Linked DNA regions of Homo sapiens: region 1 is linked to region 2. The links come from fine-mapping of genetic effects on gene expression. Tissue or cell type: whole blood. Region 2 holds a variant in brackets; the other region holds the start of a gene. All regions are shown on one strand. Distances are between the middles of the regions.

The links. PIP is the estimated chance that this variant, and not a neighbour inherited with it, causes the effect.
Region 1: AOAH starts here. The variant in region 2 is fine-mapped to the expression of AOAH in whole blood (INTERVAL, PIP above 0.99).

Annotation. Positions count from the first base shown.
Region 1 is chr7:36,720,990-36,729,244 of GRCh38, forward strand. AOAH (acyloxyacyl hydrolase) reads right to left here and starts at 3,505. Exons shown (of 21, transcript NM_001637.4): 1 at 3,033-3,505. The coding sequence starts at 3,159.
Region 2 is chr7:36,745,231-36,753,643 of GRCh38, forward strand. No RefSeq gene overlaps it. Among named protein-coding and RNA genes, the nearest start is that of AOAH, 25 kb to the left of the region's middle. The variant C/G (reference allele first, on the strand shown) is at 3,411.

The DNA.
Region 1 (8,255 bases), 24 kb before region 2:
TCTTCCTCTTCCCACCAGCTGCGAGAGAGCGGACCTCACTGCTTCCTGAGATGCTTCCCACATACAACCCTTCCAGCAGGTACACCCCAGGATCCCGTATCAGGAGACACTCGCTCCCCAGCTTCTGGAGCCATTGGTCTGAAGGATTATGCCAGCATCAGAGTCCCTTGCCAGAACTGTCTCCACCAACGGGAGATGTCTCAAAATTACAGCCCTCCCCTGTGGTCAGGTCACATCGAGGGACTGTTTGATGTGGGAATTCCAAGACCTGCACCTACTTCAGGACAACTCTGAAGAGCTATTTTAGTCCCAGAGCTCTCAGTGGGACTTCTTTTATGGCTGCAGCACAGCCCGGCTTCTCTCTGCCAACCCCACTGCCTTCCTCTCTTGCTCGTCTTTTTGCCAAGAGCACTTCTCAATAAACTCCCCTGCACACACATTTCTAATCCTGTCTCCCCCAAAAGCCAACTTCAATCAGTGAAGCACCAAGTTGGACCACCTTCAGCCCCTGTCTCAGCACATAGGCAGTGCTCAGTAAGTGTTCATCACAAGACTGGACTCCTCTTGCACCCACCTTTCTTGCTATTATGACAACAGGTGAATAAGTCACCCAGGCAGAGTTAACCAGAAGAAGTTGGGAGTTGCTGGGAAAATGGATGCTAAATCATCCTCAAACCTAATCAGCAACAGAGTCTCCAAGCCCTTGGGGCCATGAGAATTTGTATGGGCAACCAAAGTGAACCTCTGTGAATGATAGAGATGACCACACATTTCTTGACCCTCTCCATCAAAATGAAGGGTCTCTGCCCCCTCCCTTTGAGTCTGGGTGGAGGAACTTGTGAATGCTTTGAGCAATGGAAGATGGCAAGTAATGCTGTGCCTGTTTCCAGACCCAAAACTTGAAAGATTGGCAGCTTCTAATTCCTGTCTTTTGGAATTCTCTCTGGGATTCCTAAGCTGCCAGGTAAGAAAGCCTACTACCCAAGATAGCCATGTGTGGGCACTCTGATGGCACTCCCAGATGAGCCAACCCTCTAGCCATTCCCTCACCCCTAAGGTGCCAAATATGTGAGTGAAGCTGTTTTTGTCAGTCCCAGATCCATCAATCCACCATCCGAATACCACCTCCTAACCTCGGTCACTCCTACATGGAGAAGAAGAATCACCAGCCAGTGTTCGAACAAATTTTTCACCCATAAAATCATAATACAACAAATGGTTATTATTGTAATTTTTGATGCAGCAATAATAGAAAAACCAGAGCAACCCCATCCTGAAATCTCCCCAACACCTCCTTCTTACCCTCTATGACCTCACTGGGAACAGGGCAGAGAAAGGAATGTGTACCTCCTGTCCATTTTACTGAAGTGAAGGTCCAAGGATCTCAGCCCTGACAACTTGCCCAAACTCAAACATTTAGTTTGCAATGAGCCCAGAAGTAAAACTGATTTCATCTGAGCTTTTCTCAAGTGTATTTCCATTTGATGGGCAGTAGGGTTTTGTTTTGAGAAAAATGAAAAGGTGGCAAATAGTTATTTAAGGAAACCAAATACTGGGGGAGGATGATCTCCCAGGCATGGTTCAAAGGACCACACACCTCTGCCTTCAGGTCTCTGGAAAATAGTCTTGGGGAATCTGGGTCTTAATTAAAACAAGACTTTGGAGGCTGGGCGCGGTGGCTCATGCCTGTAATCCCAGCACTTTGGGAGCCAAGGGGGGCGGATCACGAGGTCAGGAGTTCGAGACCAGTGTGGCCAACATAGGGAAACCCCATCTCTACTAAAAATACAAAAAATTAGCTGGGTGTGGTGGTGTGCATCTGTAATCCCAGCTACTCCGAAGGCTGAGGCAGGAGAATTGTGTGAACCAGGGAGGCAGAGGTTGCAGTGAGCTGAGACTGCACCATTGTACTCCAGCCCAGGTGACAGTGCGATAATCCATCTCAGAAAAAAAAAAAAAAAAAAAAAAAAAAGGACTTTGGAAGTAGAGATGCATCTCCTAACATGTACAATGACCTGAGGCCATGATTTTGAGGAAGTAGGACAAATTCAGATATATTTCCATATTGTCTCCAGAAACAATTCCTAAGTGTCAGAATCTGTGTCCAGATTTTCCATTTGCAGCATGTAGCCATCAGACTTATCCTAGAGTTATTTTCCTGGCTTCTCAAGCTAGGATTGTATTTTGAGGTCTGCTCATTGAACAATTACTTACTACTCAGAGTTCTGAGTCTATGTGGCTCCATGGACTGTACCATCTAAATGCCACCACTATTATGAGAATTCCCATGTTATGAGAGCTACAATGTGAATATCAAAGATCTTACCTTACTTCCTGCTCTCATCCAAAAAAAACAAACAAAAAAAACCTCTTGGAAATAAAACACTTCATTAACAGATGAGCCAAGAAGCCATATCAACGCTCAGCGTCTCCAGGTGATCGCCAAATCTGGATTCTCTGAGAGACGGAAGGAAGCTAAGATGGTTGAGTCCTTACTGTGTGCACATGCCACAGATTTACATGCATGGTCACAATTTCCATGGTATCCCTATGAGATGGGTCTCACTCACTTCAGTTCACCAATAAGGACACAGAAGCATGGAGAGGGTTAAGTACATTGCTCCAGGTTTCCACAGCCAGTAGGAAATGGGAGAGAAGGGTAGGAGGAGGGCAGTGATTCAAACTCAGATGTGTTTATATGAGGTCAAAGCCCATGAAAAGCAGTAAAAATTTCAGACTAAAATAGCCTGAAATAATAGTTACCTATACAAGAAGAAAAAATTCCAATCGCCAATGAGGTGGAAGAGTTTTATGCCCAATTTAAACTAGTATGCTTTTTATTCACATAGATGTATGTAGTGTCAATGTCTACTCTTAGACTCCACATTTCTCTGTGTCAGTGAGGTTACTGGTGCCTTACCTGGAATCTTACAATTCTTGATTTAATAAAATATGTGATTTATTACGCAAGCAAAGTACTGGATCCCATTGTTATGTCTACATAGAAAATACAAAAATATTTATTTGCATACCTACACAGGTGTGCCCATTCGAGAGGCTGGGCCTGGACTGGTCATCGTTGGCTGGAGAGGCCGAGGACTGAAGAGACAGGAGCAAGAATAGAGGCGCCACCGTAAGGATTTTCCAGGGGGACTGCATCTCCGAGCTATGCACCCCAAGTGATCACCCGGCTTTGGAAGCTCCCAACTGAGGGATGCTGGAGCTGAGGCTGCAGAATCAATTGATCTCTCTCTCCTTCTCTTCCTCACTCTCTTTGACACACACACCCCACCCTCTCACATACACACTTTTCAATAAGTGTGAAGTGAATAAAAGCACACATAAACACTCACAGACCCACAGCTTGCTCTTGTTGGACCCTGAGAGAGCCACACACAAAGAGCTGGAGGGAGTCTGTGGTGTGCGGTTCTGCTGAGGTAAAGACTGCAGGATAAAGAAAACCCAAGTTGCACAGTGGCACAACTTCCGTGCTCCCTGGCTCAGTGAAGTTAGTGTGCATAAACCCCGTGAGCCTCGAGGCTTGCCGGAACTGATCTGTTGGGTTGGTTAGGAGGCCCTTCCCCTTTCATTCTTGCAAAACAAAACAAAACGATACTAAAGCCAAAACTGAGAAGAAAAAAGAAAAAAAAAACTAATCCACAAGCACACAACCCTTTAACAATTTGATCAGCAGCACCCACATATTGTAGAAATTCTAATTGGTTACATTCAGAACTTACTTAGTCTTGTTTTCAACAGCTTTATATGGTAAGGTTGTGATCCTTATTTTGTTGTAAAAGGATATTCTGGTCAAATAATATCTTTCCTCTGGAGAAATTGGGTTATTCCTTGAAGGGTCAAGGCCTTTTATTTGGTGTGCAGAAAATAAACAGTACAGAAAATAATGGGCAGTTAGCATGGTGGGATTTTAGACCTAATGAGAAAAAACATGGGTTAGAATTAATCAATTCACAGTTGCTAGGCTGTGCACAATGCATCTTTTTTTTCTCCAGAATTTCGAAGTGCATTTTGTGGATGATTTGTTAAGAGACTGATTTTCTGCTCTGAAGAATAGAACTGAACACTGTCTTTCTGAGGGAAAAAAAAAATCGGAACCAGATCATAGATAAAAGACATATAATCTAAATGTTTCTCTCTAAAATAAGATAAAACAAAATCATATGCCATTCTCAGTCAAGATAAGAGGACAGGGCCAAAGTACCACAGTCTAGGTAAGTGTAGGAGGTCATGAGATTCTGTTTCTCTCTGCTTAGGCTCTGAGGGAGCTTATTACAAATTTTGAAATATTATAGAAGCTATCTAAATTGTTAGCAATTAAAAAAAATAGCATTTGGAGTAGCAGGCAAAGTTTTAGAGTAGCATCCTTTCCAGGATGTAGGAAATACCAGTTTTTATGGTTGGAAGATTTCTTGTGCAGTCATTAGTCTTACAAGCACCGATGGGGCTACAATTCCCAAACCTGCTGCAGAGATAGCACAAGTCAGAGTGTTTCCCTAATTACACTTCCAGCCCAATACTGAGGATATCGTTAGGCGTCCATGGGCCTGTGACTTCCTCTGACTCTAAGGTGCTGCTGCTTCAGTTCTTCACTCTGTGACTAAGGGGAGCTCTGGGGTCACTAGGACCACCACAGGGGTGAGGCCTAGAGAAGTTCCAGAGACTTCCAAGGGAGGCTAAATAAAGGACTGATTGATTAGGAACTCAGATTGTGAAGACAGAAAGGCTCATGCTTACGTCTCATGTCTACTGTTTATTCTGAGTAATATATTAGACCAGTGATGTAACTTTCCCCCCTTCAGTGTCTTGTTTTTGTTGTTGTTGTTGTTGTTTGTTTGTTTTTTGAGACAGGGCCTTGCTTTTTCATCCAGGCTGGAGTGCAGTGGTGTGATCACAGCTCACTGCAGTGTTGACCTCCTGGGTTCAAGTGATCTTCCCACCTCAGCCTCCCAAGTAGCTCATTTCTATTGGGATAATGGTAATATCCGCTCCAATGCGCTGCTGGAAGCACTCGAATACATGATGTATCCAAACAACAAAGCAGCATGGCTGGCAAGAAGTAAGTGCTTAGTGCATCTGTCTATGACTCTAGCAGGAGTGTGATGAAACCTGCACCCCAGACCAGCTTCAAGAGAATTCCAAGACGCCCATGGTAGTTGTAGGCCATCATGTCATACATGGGAAATGGTGAGGACAGGAAAAGGGAGGATTTATTGAATACCTTCCAGCTGTGCTACAGCACTCCAGGAGTGTGTGGTCTAGTTTGTCTAATCCATAAATGGGTGAGGACTCTCCTGAGGGCTTCTGGAAGAGCATTTGACACAGGCTTTGGGCCTCTTGAGGCTCTCCTGGTCTCAATGTATAGCTGCGAGCAGGTCTGGAAACTCTTAGAGTGAGAGGGATTTCTTGGTATGCCGGAAATGCAAGTTTTGTGCCCTTCATCGCATGTATGTGGGCCAGGCAGTGCCATTCACAACCATCCCAGGGATGGTCGGCTCTGAAACTCTCTAGTGTGCTCAGGCTTCGGGGCTGGTCACAGTGGGAGTCGCTGACTTAGCTGTGCAGTATTGAGCAAGCCCCTTCCTGTTTCCAGAGGTGACAGTCCTCAGCTAGAAAAGGGAGGTGAGACTATCTACTTCGTAGGAATATATCATGGTAAAACCTGACACATAGGTTTTCAGTAATGGAAGGATTTTTCATGCTTGGAGGGTGAGTTCTTACTGGGCATGATCAAAGGAAGAATGCAGAAATCAGAAAGTGATTTCGCCAGCAGAAGCTGGAACAAAGTGCACGTGTGCACAGACCACTGAACAAAACATCCCTCTCCGTCACCAGGATGGAGTGGACCCTCCCATTTGCACAGTTGTCCTTCACACTGGCTGGTATCATTGCCCCTGACAGGGCTGCCTTTGCTCATCAAGTACTGAGTGCAAATGACTTGGGATCTTTGCACAGCTTGCCAAAAGGCCCTGGACCTACCTGTGGTTTAGAACAACTAGTCAGGCCCTGGAGAATGTTCCTGCAGGACCCCACTGTCAGATGTTCCAATTTTGAATCATCTCGAAATCTGCTCTTGAAAATGAGATTTCTTCCCTGAAGCACTTTGTTACTGATTTCACTCAAACAGCTCTGATTCAAACCACTGCTTTCCCCTGTGCCATGGAAGGCTAAGGCTTTGTGATCCCCAAGTGTTGCACCTGTGGTCTGCTTGTTCAGTATGAATATGCTTCCTGAATATTTTTTGACCACATTGGCCTCAACCACCTCATCCACAGCAAGTTCCTTAATCAGAAAAAAAAAAAAAAAAAAAAGAGGTGGGTGATGGGAGATCCTGTAAAAGCTGGCACTGTCACCAACACGTGTCTCGTCTTAGACTTTCTCCTCTCTCTAAGGCCCAGGTCCATGCTGCCCTGTTACTCCTGGCTGCCCAGGACTGTGTACAGCAGTCCTCAGTTCCCATCTACCAAAACCAGGCCCTCTGCTGCTCCCCTCCTCCTCAGTCAGAGCTTATTAACGCTAGCCTCATTCTATTCTGTTCTGCTGTCTGCTAAGGACAGGGTAAATTAACCCATGCTGAGGATGCATGGGGGCTCATTAAAAGAGCTCTGGGCTAGGATGGGGGGCCTGTGTCATGGGCTCCCCTCCTAGTAGCTGTGTGCCCTGGGTAAGCTGCTCCACCTTTCAGAATACCAGTTTATTTTACTATAGAATAGGGCATATAATGTCAATATTTAAGAAAATTGTGAGAATTAGAGAGACAACATGAATTTAAAAACATAATATTAACTGTTAGATGAATGTGAAGCTGACAATGAATTCACATTATTCTTCTCAAGTAGCATTGAAATTTTGGGGGAAGTTTTTTAAATCAAGATTTTAAAAATTGCTACATAATAACTGTACATATTTCTGGTGTACATGTGACATTTCAATACGTGCATGCAATGTGTAATGATCAAATTAGGGTAATTAGGATATCCGTCATCTCAAATATGTATCATTTCTTTGTCTTGGAAACATTTAAAATTCTCTTTTCCAGCTATTTTGAAATATACAATGAATTGTTGTTAACCAAAGTCACCCTACTGTGCTATTCAACACCAGGACTTATTCCATCTAACTGTATTTCTGTAGCCATTAATCAATCTCTCTTTATTCACCCTTTCCCACCCTTCCAAGTCTCTGGTATCTATCGTTCTATTCTCTACCTCCTTGAGATCACCTTCTTTAGTTTCCACAAGTGAGTGAGAACATGCAGTATTTGTCTTGCTGTGCCTGGCTTATTTCACTTAACATAATAACCTCCAGTTTCATCCATGTCGATGCAAATGACAGGATTTCATTCTTCTTAATGGCCAGATGGTATTCCATTGTGTACATGTACCACATTTTCTTTATCCATTTATCTGTTGATGGACACTTAAGTTGATTTCATACCTTGACTGCTGTGGCTAGTGCTGCAATAAACATGGGTTTATACTACAAAGTATGTCAGTATACCTTTCCAACATACTGATTTTCTTTTGAATACATAACCAGCAGTGGGATTGATAGATTATATATTAGATCTATTTTTAGTTGTTTGAGGAAGCTCCATACTGTTTTCTATAGTGGGCTGTACCATTTATAATCCCACCAACAGTGTGCTAGTAGTGCCCTTTCAAAGCATCCTTACCAGCATCAGTTATTTTTGTCTTTTTGATGATAGCCATTTTAATTGGGGTGAGATGATATTTCAGGGTGACTTTGATTTGCATTTCCCTCATGATTCATGATGCTGAGCATTTTTAAATATACCTGTTGGCCATTTGAATGTCTTCTTTTGAGAAATATCTATTCAGATCCTTTGCCCATTTTCTAATCAGGTTTTTTGCTGTTGTTTGAGCTCCTTGTATATTCTGGCTATTAATTCCTTGTCAGGTAGGTAGTTTACAAATATTTTCTCCCATTCTGCAGATTGTCTCTTCACTCTGTTGATTGTTTCCTTTGCTATGCAAAAAGTTTTTAGCTTGATGTAGTCTCATTTGTCTATTTTTGCTTTTATTGCCTATGCTTTTGAGTTCTTACCCAAAGAGTCTTTGCCCAAACCAATGTCCTGAAGCATTTTCCCACCTTTTCCTTCTACTAGTTTTATAGTTTTTCAGGTCTTGCACTTAAGTCTTTCATCTGTTTTGAGTTGATTTTTGTATATGGTGAGACATTGGGGTCTAGTTCTACTTTTGAGCATATGGATATCC
Region 2 (8,413 bases):
TAGCTGGGATTACACACGCGCGCCACCATGCCTGGCTAATTTTTGTATTTTCAACAGAGACGGGGTTTCATCATATTGGCCAGGCTGGTCTCTAACTCCTGACCTCAGGTGATCCACCTGCCTTGGTCTCCCAAAGTGCTGGGATTACAGACATGAGCCATGGCACCTGGCCGGTCCCTACTCTTAATTGTTCTGCAGCTTTCACGTTGATTGAAACTGGATTCAGCACATAATTCCTTCCATAGAGGCTTTGCCTTGGGCACCTAGGCCTGAAGATGCACTGGCCTAGGTAAGGGGAAGGGAATGACCTAAGAGGGTTTCAGGTCAAACAAAATGGGAGAGGGAAGCTTGTCCATTTAGAGGCAGCAAAGTGGGGGAAGAGAAGAGGATCAGAGACAGGTGAACACACAGTCAGAAATATATGACTCCACCTTTCAGCCCCAAACCAAAGCTCCCAGGTGTTAGAAGGATTGAGAGGGTAGCCAGGAGCAGAGGGATTTCCTGTTTGGGATCCTGAGAGTGGTGCCTGCAGCAGAGTGAAAAGTGTGGTGTTTGGGACCCAGGGTGGGGTGCCCTAGGTGACAGAGCGAGACTCCATCTCAAAAAAAAAAAAAAAACTGTGGAGTTTGGGACCCTGGGAGGGGTGTCTGCAGCAGAGTAGACAGTGTGGTACAGCAGATGTAGCAGGGAGCCTGGGTTAGCATTCCCAAGCCTTATACGCAGCCTGTAGAAGAAGCAGAAGTTATTGAGGATGTGGCTGATGAGGTCTGCTATTCCAGGGGCAAAGAGATCCCATACCTATGGGGGGAGGGCACAGTACCCTGGTCAGGGCTGCAGCAAGGACCTGGTTGGGGCCAAAACTTTGGGGAGGGTTACGGGGCTGAGATGGAGCCCAGAGATCAACTGCAAATGCGCCAGCTACAGATTTCAGCTCCAGAGGTCAGCATGGTATAGGGGCCATCCACATGTAGTCCTTTCCAGGACACCAAAGGACTACGGAATCAAATACGTAGAGTTAGAGTCCATTCCTCCTCACTTCCCTGGACTCCCCGATTTCCCCACACCCAGAGGTCATCTTGAAAAGGAAGGGGTAGGGAGATCTGGAAGATCAAGCATTGATGCACAAGCAGCCTGGCCACCCCCAAAAGCAGACTCCAACCCACAGAAACAGAGGTATTACTAACTGGTGAGTTTGAAGTGTAACTGCCCTGCACATCATGCACAGGAAGAACAGAAAATTCCTAATAAGGAAGCAACCTCTTATGAAACTGAGCAAGCAAGCTGGCAGCGTGTGCAGCCCAGTACACGTGGCAACAATGATAAGGATGGAGCGGTCCGGAGTGGGGGTGACCCAGCCCTTGCCTGCCAGTGGGATCTCTTAGTCAGGCTTGTGAGTGACCTCAGGCTGAAGGGCTAAGGGCCATGGCAGAAGCCTGACAGGAGAGGCAGGGAGCACAGAGCCAAGAGAGGCTAGTTTAGGGAGTAGGGACGGCTTCCCAAGGGGGTTGGTGCAGTTAGTGGGACCAGGGAACACGCTCACCTTTTATAGGGAGTGAGGCTCTCCTGGGTCATGAAACTGAGCTACAGAAGCCTGGCGCCTTTCTCAGGCTCTTCTGGTTGTAAGTTACAGAAAGCCATGGGAGCCAACTTGAGCAAATGCAATGGATGGGGCACTGCAGAGGCTCATGGAATCAGAGAACAGAGACTGCAGGACCTAGGGAAGGCACAGGACTGGACCGGGGGACACAGTAAAGAGCCCAGGAAGGGTGTCATTTCTACTTTCCTCTGAGCCTCTACTTCATCCTCCCTTTGGCTTTGGACTGTCTTGCCTCGTTTTTTGTTGGGAAGGCCAACAGCTCCTGAGCTTACGTGTTGCAGGGCCAAGTTTCTCTCTGTCTCAGTTGAAATTTGCCATGAAGGGACTGGTTTGCCTCCTGTACACCCATCAATTCCACCAGGAGCAAGGGAGGACAAGGGAACAAAACAGCTTTCAAAACAACATTGTGGATGGGAGAGAAGCGGGGAGGTACGAATAAGGGGTCTAGGCTTCACCCTAGGCTGCCAGGAAGGATCAGTCACTCTCCCCAGTAAATTAAGGAAAGTCCAGAAAGAAGAGAGAGTGATTTCGGGAAGCAGTAGGGGTGGACAGAAGAGGTACCCTCCTCCCCCTTGGACTTGGAAAAACAGAGCCAGCACTCTCCTGGCCATGAGTCAGAAAGTGGAGCTGTAGGGGGTGGCTGCAGAACCACAGGGTACATTTTTTCACTCTTTCATTATGTCACCTTAAAGAAATTAAGTAAAACTGCCAGTAAGGAAAAAAGAAAGCTAATAGTGGGGATATTGCTCAAAGGCAGAAAATTAGTTAAACATTACATTGGGGTTTCACAACAGGTTGGTGTACTGATTTTCTCACAGCTCCTTAATGAGTCTTGGAAAAAAAGATATAATTTTAATGTGGTCTTGATTGCTTTATTCTCAGGTCAGCCTGAGAATTTTCTCATGACGTTAATTATTCATTTTTGTAAGAAGCCTGCATAAATAAAAGTACAAGTACCGGGTGTCCAGTGTGGCATTTCAGGAGCTTGGAGAAAGAGGATAGAGAAGGTGAGAGCTGGGGGAAAATTGAGAGGTGGCCAGAAAGAGAGGCTTTGGTCATTTCCAGAGTCATGGAGTTGCAGAGAACTAGCTTTAGGCATTGCATGTAATTTAATGTTCTTCAATGTCCTGTAGCCTAAGACCACCTGGAACACACCTGTAGTCAACAAAGTTAGGCTGATTAACGCCACAGCAAGGGAAACTGCACGCTGTGGGGAAGCTTGAGGCATCTCAAAAGGGTGGATTAAGACAAGGGCACCCAATAAAGCTTTGGGGGCTGGAGTTAGTCACAGGATGGTGTTGGCAGGATTTCATCAGATTCTGTAAACTGGGGAGTTTCTGGAAAAGTAAGTGGTCTTATCTTTGGGATTCACAAGTCTGTGTGGAGTTACTGACAGGTCAATTTCTCTATGGTCTTATCTGGGAACAAATGGGCCTGAAAGAGCTGGTGTTTCAAGGTTTGAACTTAGATCGTCTGTGATGCCCACCACGGTGTGGTCGGGAGAAATTGGCCTGCTTCGAAACTGAGGCTTATGTTTTGAAAATTGTGGTTTCTGTTTTCATTCTCGGTCCCTGTCATCTCTCTGCCAACATGAACCCCAGTCTGCCAGTCTACCTTTTTCATTTACTCACTATTTTTCTATCCCATCGTTATGGTTATTCTACTGACATGCTACATGTAACATAAAGAGCCCTACAGCTGCATAACCTCCTGAGAGAGGGCTTCTTTAGTTTGCAATGGAGAACTGGAGATGGTGCTCATTCACAGATATCTAACACTCGGTAAGTCATCTTGTTTGACCACTCCCTCCTCA[C/G]AGGTCTGTGCCTTAACTGTGCATGTGAAATATTATATATCTTAGATTTAAGAAACAATTTGGCTCAACAAATGACAGTATCAGGGAGCTATTATGAGTTCTAAGAACTACTGTCCTCCTGCTATAGGTCCAGACAAGACTTTAGCATGGCAGGCTGCCTCCTAGGGCTGGGTAGTCAAGAAGGGCTGATAGTGGGTGAGCTAGTCAAGAAGCGCAGCAAAATGATGGTGAAATACCACTTCATACTTACTAGGATGGCTACTATTAAAAAAGAACACACACACAGAAAATAACAGATGTGGGCAAGCATGTGGAGAGATTGGAACCCTTGGACACTGTTGGTGGGAATGTAAAATGGTGCAGCTATAATGGAAAACAATACGGTGGAACTTCTAAAAAATAAAAATAGAATTACCATATGATCCAGTAATTCCACTCTGGGATATACCAGAATTGAAAGAATTGAAAGGAAGATCTTGAAGAGATATTTATATAACGATGTTCATTGCAGCATTATTTACCTTAGCCAAAAGGTACAAGCAAATCAAGTGTTCATTGATGCACGAATAAAAAAGCAAAATGTGGCATATCCATACAATGGAATATAATTCAGCTATAAGAAGGAATAAAATGCTGACATCTGTTATAACATGGCTGGACCTTGATGACATTATGCCAAGTGAAAGTAGCCAGACATAAAAGACTACATCGTGTATGATTCCACTAACATGAAGTACTTACAGCATTCAAATTCATAAGGACACAAAGTAGAATGGTGGTTTCCAGGGGCTTGGGGGCAAAGGGGAACAGAGAGTTATTGCTTAATGGTTATACAGAGTTTGGGGAAGATGAAAATGTTTTAGAGATATGTTGGTTATGGTTGCACAACAATGTGAGTGTACTTAATGCCACTAAACTCTACATTTAAAATGGCTGAAATGTTACATTTTCTGTTACATATATTTCATCATAATTGGAACAATGTTTTTAAAGCTAAAAAAAAAAAAAGTCTAGCAGGAGAAGAACCCACAGGTAGCACAAACCCAAGTCCTTGGAGGAGGCTAGACACTGTGACTAAGCAAATCACATTCATATACCAGATCAAGGGGCAGGGAATGGGGCCCAACACTGAGGTCAGGAGCTGGTTGGTGTTAGAACAGATGATTCAAGGGATTCGCTAAAGGATTCTCTTTGTTGCCTGACTTTAGTGCATTGCAGGGGTGAGTCAGACTCCAGGATGCAAAATCAGAGCAGATAAGGGTTTTCCTTCTTCTTTTTCTCCCTCTCTTCAAGAATATTCAGTGGAGATTTTAAACAGCCTAGAATTCTCTAGTAAAGTGGTTTGGGGAATAGAATTATAGACTTCATCCTCTAAGCCCATTGAATTCTTCCCCATCATAAGCAGAGCCAGATACAAGTGAGCACATAACTTCTCATGTTAGTGAGAAGCTATTGATTATGGCTGGGACATACGGCAAAACCAACATTTCTCTCTCTAATGCTAGTGTTGGGAGCTTTCAAATCTAGAAGGACCAGCTGTGGTATATAGACATCAGAAGAGGGGTGGTTAAGGTAGGGAGCCCCTAGAGCAAGTAAAAGTTATAAATCTAGGCAGGCAGTCAGAGTCAGGGGTGTTCCCAGGAGAGTTATTAGATCTCCAGCAAGGAAACACAGATCATGGGTCCAAGGAAGAGCCAGAGGGAGTGGAGTTTTAAAGAAGCCAGACTTTCGGTGCTGGTGTGTTTCATGCTCTGTATCTTTTCTCTCCTGTACCTCATCTTGGTTCTTTGAAGGCTTTCTGGGTTTAAGGGAATGTCTCCAGTTTGGGGAAATGCTGGGTCCACTTTCTGCACTCTTTCTTGGGAGAGAAGAAAGAAAAACAACCCAATAAAGAGAGAATGACCTAAGAGATATCTCAAAAGACCAGGGACCAAAAGCGGAGATTCCCAAAAAAACATTCTGAGAAAGCAGAAATAGTCAACGCTTTGCCCTTCCATGGGAAGTTCCACTCTCTGAACGTGTTGGTCACTGGTTTGCTTTCTTCTCAGGGGTGACACAAGGCATGCAGAAACCCTCGAGGTCCCCTGGAGGGCAGAGTAAACCATCAACAACAGGTAGTCAGAGCCCAGCCTTATGGTCTGGAATTAAGCATCTAGAAGGATAGGGATGACAGGGGGAGGGCAAGAACAGTTAGGACCTCGCTTCTGGAGTAGCTAGAAAAACATGGAGAGATGGAAACAAACCAAGGACTGGGACATGAGGGAAGACAAGCTAGAAGCCCACTTGCCGGGACCAATTTATCACATTAATATGGACTAGCCAAGAGGCTGACAATGCTGTGTCCTTTTGGAGCAATTAAAGAAATTCCTGACTGACTCTAACTCAGGAGCATCTGAAAATGACCTGGTAAGGACATTATTAACAACTGAAAAATATCTACTGTAGATTGAATGCCATTCATGAGTTAGGCAGTTTTCATTTACTCTCCCATTTACTCTGGATGGTAAGGAAGGTGTGACTAGTCCATCTTACAGATGAGGAGAGTGAGGCTCAGAGAAATAAAATTGCTCATTAGCAAACAGTGGAAGCAGAGTGTAAGGGAATTGCATCATGATTGTACATGCTTTCCCTTATGCTTGTGAATGTTTATGATCTGAACTTCATTGTCTCAAGTAAGGTTTCTTCTCTTCGTCAACACCAGCTATCCACGGGAAAAGTTAAAATCCTACATTGCACCTCTGCCTTGGGAGCCAAATAAATGGGTCCATGTTCTTATTGACAGCTGCCTTTCCCTCCTCTTCTCTGTGAGACTGTGGAGGTGTTTATGAATGATAGATCCCATGCTCTGCACTGTCAAGTTGACTCTGGATATCTTTTAATTCTCCTCTCTGGAAGAAAAAAAAGTTTTTTTCCTAATAGAGCAACCACTTAACACTTGGAGTCTTTGAGAAGCAAAATGGTGGTCTTCAGATGGATCCACAAATTCCATTCACCCCCAAAAGGACCTATAAACGTGGCCGTCCACAAGAGATTAGTCAAAAATGCATTTTTTTTTCCTGACAAAATGAGTGGCAACAGTCTTTTGTTAGAATGATATCATAAAAAATTGAGTTTAAAAGTCTGATTCTTGTGTCTTAATACTGGGTGTGAGAGGCATATACATTCCTAAATTTGTTGAGACAATATTTGACAAAGGTTTACAATAATATTCAAGGAGTGACCTCCATGGGCAGGGAAAGGGGCCTAGAAGTCCCCTCTCTGGAAACAGTCATGAGTGGGCTGGACAATCATTGGATGGAGACTGGGAGAGGTGGGCTGGACCTGGAGTCAACACCTACCTGCACACAACAATCACCTGTGGTAATTTACAAACTGAGACACTCAGAGTGAAGCTCAAGAACCTCTATTTTTTAACAAGCACCTCAAGTTATATTCATGTTGCTATGCAAGCTCCAGTTCTCTGAGAATCATTGCCCTAGATCACTGTACTCCAAACTTCCCTGAAAGTAAGAATCATCTGGCAGCACTTGTTAAATGTTCACTACACCAGGCCTCTCTCATGGACTTGGTGATGACTTGTGTAGAGTCCATGAATCAGTGGGGTTTGGGAATAACTGAACTAAAAGATTAACAGAATCCTTTATACCACTAAGATTTTGTAGCTTAGATGAAAGTTTCCATTTAATTTTAGTTCTGCTCACATACAGTGAGAGTAAAGACAGATAACTTTGAAACAACATGGGTGTCATAGTCTGTTTTCTGTTGCTATAGCAGAATACCTCAGACTGGGTAATGTATAAAGAAAAGAGATCTATTTGTCTCACTGTTCTGGAGGCTAGGAAGTCCAAAAGCACAGTGCTGGCAACCAGCGAGGATCTCTGTGTGTTATCCCATGGTGGAAGGGTGAAAGGGCAAGCAAGCACATGATACAGAGAAGAAAAAGGGGCCGAACTCCTGATAACTCACCCACTTCTACAATAATGACATTAGGCATTAATCCATTCACAAGGGAGGAGCCTCATGACCTAATCACCTCTTTTTTTTTTTTTTTTTTTTTTGAGACAGTCTTGTTCTGTCTCCCAGGCTGGAGTGCAGTGGCAAGATGACAGCTCACTGCAACCTCCGCCTCCCAGGTTCAAGCGATTCTCCTGCCTCAGCCTCCCGAGTAGCTGGGATTACACGCACACACCACCACACCTGGCTAATTTTTGTATTTTTAGTAGAGATGGGGTTTCATCATATTGGCCAGGCTGGTCTCTAACTCCTGACCTCAGGTGATCCGCCCGCCTCGGTCTCCCAAAGTGCTGGGATTACAGGCGTGAGCCACCACGCCCGGGCCCCTAATCACCTCTTAAAGGTCCCACCTCTTACTACTGTCACAATGGCAATTAAATTTCAACATGAGTTTTGGAGGGAACATTCAAACCATAACAATGAGGGATTCTATGAAGCAGGGTAATAATGCTATGCTTCTCCTTTGCATGTCCTCAACTCATTTATTTTTCTCTGTAGCACTTCACAAAATCAGAATTTCTACTTAGATTCTACCTTCTCAGCAGCTGCTTTCTTCTTTCTCTCTCATTATGTAGTCCCATGCCAGCACAACTTAGGGGCAGAAAATGCATTGAGAGACATTTGAACACAGAATGCCTGGCTCACCTTGATGTGTTTTTCTTTTTTACAGGATCTTCACTTTGTCTTTTGAAACTCCAGGCTCTTGGGGAAACTTAGCTTCCTTGGTATCTTGCTGATGCCTTCAAATGGTTGTACTTATTCTTGTTGTGTTTTTATACCCATCTTTTATAGTTATTTTCAGTGGAAGGTCTGTCTGAAACCAACGACTCCATCATGGTCAGAAGTGGAAGTCTGCCTGTTTTGGTTTTTAGTTGATTTAATATAGCAGCCTTAGAGATTCATTAAAAATTTAAGATTAAAAGTAAGATTTTTTAATGTTTTTGTCTGCCTTCACATTTTTGAGATATGATTACATACAGCAAAATGCA